2 separate regions of the Homo sapiens genome follow, and region 1 is linked to region 2. A link means that fine-mapping ties the variant in region 2 to the expression of a gene that starts in the linked region. Tissue or cell type: hippocampus. Region 2 holds a variant in brackets; the other region holds the start of a gene. All regions are shown on one strand. Distances are from middle to middle.

Region 1 (2,687 bases), 300 kb after region 2:
AAATGAATTCTTTCATTTTTAGTAATAGAGCATTCAGTTACTGGGTGACAAAGGCCCCTGAAGTATCCAGGCAGCTATATTACTTATTCCCGGCAATCCAAAGGTTTTTAGACCTGTTCTGCCCACTACACTGTAGTAGTACTGTACTACAGTAGCCAGTAGCCACATGTGACTATCCAGCATCTGAAATGTGGCTGATCCAAATTGGGATGTATTCTAAGTGTAACACACACCAGATTTCTTAAACTTCGCATTAAAAACAGAACAGAACATAAGTATTTTTTAAAATATTGAGACTCGGCAGCCAGGTGCGGTGGCTCACGCCTGTAATCCAGCACTTTGGGAGGCCGAGGCGGGCAGATCACGAGGTCAGGAGATCGAGACCATCCTGGCTAACATGGTGAAACCCCGTATCTACTAAAAATACAAAAATTAGCCTGACGTGGTGGCAGGCACCTGTAGTCCCAGCTACTCGCGAGGCTGAGGCAGGAGAATGGCGTGAACCTGGGAGGCGGAGCTTGCAGTGAGCAGAGATTGCGCCACTGCACTCCAGCCTGGGTGACAGAGCGAGACTCCGTCTCAAAAAAAAAAAAAAAAAAAAAAAAAATATATATATATATATATATGAGACAGACAGACCGACCCCGGGCATCGTGACTCACGCCTGTAATCCCAGCACTCTGGGAGGTTGAGGCGGGCGGATCACTTGAGGTCAGGAGTTCGAGACCAGCCTGGTAACATGGCGAAACCCCGTCTCTACTAAAAATAACAAAAATGAGCCGGGTGTGATGGCGGGCGCCTGTAATCCCAGCTACTTGGGAGGCTGAGGCAGGAGAATCGCTTGAAGCCAGGAGACGGAGGTTGCAGTGCGCCGAAATTGCGCCGCTTCCAGCCTGGGCGACAAAGCGAGACTCCATCTCAAAAAATTTTTTGATTATATGTTGAAATAATACTATTTGGGATGTATGGGTTAAATAAAATATATATGATTGTTTCTATTTTGACTTTTAATGAGGCTACTGGAAATTTTTAAATTACGTATATGGTTCGAATTATATATCTATTGGACAGTGATGTTACAGATAGAAATACAGCATAGTCAGGAGAATCGCTTGAACCGGGAGGCGAAGGTTGCAGTGAGCCGAGATCGCGCCTCTACACTCCAGCCTGAGCAACAGAGCAAGACTCCGTCTCAAAAAAAAAAAAGAAAAAGAAAAAAATTCAGCCGAGTGCTGCAAGATACGTCATTCTAGTTGAAGGAATATCTAAGCCAACAAGCGGCTCCCATCATCCGGTTTCACGCCTCTCTAAGACGCAGCCAGGGCTGCGGGACTTGAAGCGCGGGAATCTCGGCCCTGGCACCGACTCCCCGGAAAAACTACAGGGCCCGGCATGCACTGCGCGCCTCTGGGAGCGGGAGCCGAAAGGAACCGGCGCTTTGTGACGTCACGTCCGCCTTACCGGCGGATTAAGCTCGCTTTCTTCTAGGCGCGTTTCCTGAAGGTGGGAGGGGAGCGTCCGCGAGGCGCTGGGGCGACGGGGCAGGTTTATCCGGGCTAACTTTGCCGAGTCTGTTTTTGAGGGAAGAGGTTGTGAGGATCGTATCTTCCGGGACGCGTTTCACGTGGGAAGGCGCTCCACGCCTGGAACTGTCAGCAGCCGGCGCCTGAAGAGCTCCTGGCGCGGGGCCTCTGGCCTGGCAGCCGCAGGACCCAATGGATCAGGCGCTCACGCTGTTCTCACTGCATGGCTTCAGTGCCTTGCCTGGCACCTCCTATCCTGTAACTGGCCGACTCGGGGTCCCACCCAGGCTTCTCCAGCGGCCGGGAAGGGGCTCTGCTTCCGGAAGTGTTTAGGAAGGGAGCCAGCGTAAACCAGAGTCCCTTCCTCCAAGCATCGCTGAAGCCTTTTCTCCCCTGGCAGCCGACTTCCTTTTCTTTGGAAAGGACGTCAGTTTTTTTAGCTTGTTGAAACTGTTCAGAGATGCGGTCTTGTGGGCAAATAAATGCCTGTTTAGCTGAGCTGTTATTTTCAGCTAAGAAGTTCTTCAAGTTTTCAAGATCTAGGAGGGGGTGTAGGCTCGAATTATAATGGACCCAGTGTAGCAAAACATTTATTCATTTAAACAATTGTGCATGCTCATTCAGACGCACTACCTGAGTGAGATGATGCCGTTCTGGGCTGCTTCATCTTAAAGAGAGTCACTGTTTCTTCTGGCAACTTCTACCTGCCTTGCCTATCGAGGTTTGTGAATTGCACCTCTGGTTTAATTTCAGGTCGATGGCCAGGTGGTCTTCATAAACTATACTGCCTTGTGATGCCTCCCTAGAAATGAGAGGTGAGTCCCTTCCAAACGAGGATTCTAGGATCTCATGCTTTCTTTTCTTGACAAGGCTTGCCCTGGCCCTCTGACTTTCAAGTCACAGGGTCTCACTTCCTGCAGATTTTTGTTTTAAATCACTGTGGTCTGATTTACCAGTAGCATTCACTACAGTAGCGAGCCTGCACGTTGCGCTGCAGGGGATTCATAACAATACCATCTTTCAAAAGCTGCATGCACTGGAGCTCAGGAAAGCCTTTTTTGTTTTTTTGAGAGGGAGTCTCGCTCTGTCACCCAGCCTGGAGTGCAGTGGCACAATCTCGGCTCATTGCGACCTCCGCCTCCCGGGTTCAAGCGATTCTCCTGC
Region 2 (2,687 bases):
ACTGGGATTACAGGCGTGAGCCACCATGCCCAGCCTCCAACCCGCACTTTTTATTTAAGGGAAATAGGTGGTAGATTATTCTGAAACAATGGGAAAAAATTGCTCTATCATTGTGTTTTGTGAATCTAGATTTCTATATTTTGTTTGTTTGTTTGTTAGTTTTCTTTTTTTGAGATGGAGTTTTGCTCTTGTTGTCCAGGCTGGAGGGCAATGGTGTGATCTCAGCACATCGCAACCTCTGCCTCCTGGGTTCAAGCGATTCTCCTGCCTCAGCCTCCTGAGTAGCTGGGATTACAGGCATGCGCCACCATGCCCAGCTTATATTTTGGTTTTTTTAATTTTATTAACGTAGTAGATAAGCAATATAGATAACTTTGGAAGATAATAAGCAGAGAGATAGGAATGTCAATTCCCTGTAAGATATGAGCCTAATGAACCAGTTACCTTAGAAAAGGTAACTCATAATAACCAATTTTTATTTATTATAAATATCTAATAGCTCAATTATTTCTTCTCATGCTTACTAAAAATATTTCCTAGAGTTTTTGAAGTTTCTAGGGCAAAAATCTCCTATAGCATATGCCCTACAATTTAGCACACATAAAGGAATGTGGGGATTTTTAATTCAGATGTGAGTTTTAATTTCATGAGCTACTTAACAGTTTCCAAATGGAATTTCTCTACAGCCAGAATCAAAGACAAAGATTTTCTTCGCCATTATTTCTAGTTAACTTGAAAATAATTTGAATGAAAGAGAGAAGGGCTTGTCTAAACACTAATGCCTGGAACCACTTGAAATATTTTCACCAGCTTTCCAAGTGTTCCCTGGTTCACCTGCAGACAGCCCAAGGTCATTCCCTGCGCAGAACTGTCACGGCCTGAACTGCTCTCTTCCTTTTTATGTGCTGAGCATCTTCTCACTGGAGATTTTCTACCATTTCTCCTTCATCATTCTTCTTTCTTAAAATTTATTGCAGTTTTGATTTCCTGCCATGGTAATGGGTTATCTTTTATGACTGTGCAGATGGGCGCTTTCATTTGGGGAAACT[CTA/A]CACCATTCCTGTCGGCCTCTGGATAGCAGCTTAGAAGCTCTATTCATCGAGTTTCTTAGCTGTGTCACTAGTTTAGAACACCTTGTCATCTATTTTACAGGGTCTGAAGATATTTTCCATTCGTAACCAGTACAGGTTTGGAATGTTACTGAGTTAAACAGCTCAGCAAGTTTTACAACTGGGCACAGAAGAGGATGGCATCTATAATTATAGACTATAATTATAAGGTTCTTGAAAAGGTGGGATGAGACAGCTTCAGTACACAATGTTGTCATATTCTGGCATCAGAACATATTTGGTGCTTGACCTGGATGGAGTTGGAGACCGTTATTCTAAGTGAAGTAACTCAGAAATGGAAAACCAAACATCATATGCTCTCATTTATAAGTGGGAGCTAAGCTATGAGGAAGCAAAGGCATAAGAATGATACAATGAACTTTGAACTTGGAGAGGAAAGGTGGGAAGGGGGTTGAGGGATAAAAGACTACACATTGGGTACAGTGTACACTGCTCGGGTGACAGGTGCATGGAAATCTCAGAAATCACCACAAAGGAACTCATCCCCAAAACTACTGATATAAAATAAAATTTGGTGCCGGAAGTTATTCTCTAGTGACTCTAGTCACAGTGGTTCTCAACTACGAGTGATTTTTTTTCCATGGTAATGGTAAGTGGTAAATATAAATGGTAAATAGCTCCAAAGATATTTGGCCATGTCTTGAGACATTTTGGGTGGCCACTGGATGGGACACAGTGCTGGCATCTAGTGGGTAAAGACCAGGGAGGCTGCAAAACATCCTCCTATGCACAAACAAACCCTCCATGACGGAGAATTATCTAGTCTAAAATGTCAATAGTTCCAAGGTTGAGAAACCTCAAAGATCAGCTATATTTCCATACCAGTATTTTATTACAATATTATAAATAGTACTCTTCATAGCACTTTTCAATATCTGATATTGTGTTCAGCTGTTCTTGCATTTCTATAAAGAAATACCTGAGACTGGATCATTTATAAGAAAAGAGGTTTCATTGGCTCAGAGGTCTGCAGGCTGTGCAGGAAGCATAGTGGCATCTGCTTCTGGGGAGGCCTCAGGAAGCTTTTACTCATGGTGGAAGGCAAATGGGAAATAGGTACTTCACATGGCAAAAGCAGGAGCAAGAGCGAGAACTCTGTGAACACAGAGCGAGATCTCACTCATCACCAAGGGGATGGCCCAAGCCATGCATGAGGGATCTGTCCCCATGATCAAAACACCTCCCACCAAGCCCCACCTTCAACATTGGAGATTACAATTCAACACTAGATTTGGGCAGGGACAAATATCCAAACTATGTAAGAGATTTTTCTTGTTTATTTTTCTTTGTATTTTTCCCCACTTTGCCTGAATTAGTCACTTCCATTTTTTCATCACACTGAACTGTGTGCTCAATAAGAATTGTTTTAACGTTATTAGTTCCACTACTGTTGTTTTAAATAGGAAATAGGAATATTTCTATTTTAAATAGGAAAGAAACTGAAGTCAAAAGTGGGCCAAAAGGTTACAGTACAACATGGTGGCAAGTCATACTGAGATCGTGGTGTCTTAATATAAAAGTCAGTGTCTCATTCTTGCTGGTGTTTTGAATCACTTT

What was found. PIP is the estimated chance that this variant, and not a neighbour inherited with it, causes the effect.
Region 1: ADAT1 starts here. The variant in region 2 is fine-mapped to the expression of ADAT1 in hippocampus (GTEx, PIP 0.92).

The regions. Positions count from the first base shown.
Region 1 is chr16:75,622,054-75,624,740 of GRCh38, reverse strand. It overlaps ADAT1 (adenosine deaminase tRNA specific 1), which reads left to right and starts at 1,460. Exons shown (of 10, transcript NM_001324445.2): 1 at 1,460-2,338. RefSeq lists enhancers at 1,147-1,666, 1,546-1,785, 1,667-2,186, 2,187-2,687.
Region 2 is chr16:75,924,323-75,927,009 of GRCh38, reverse strand. No RefSeq gene overlaps it. Among named protein-coding and RNA genes, the nearest start is that of CPHXL, 200 kb to the right of the region's middle. The variant CTA/A (reference allele first, on the strand shown) is at 1,050.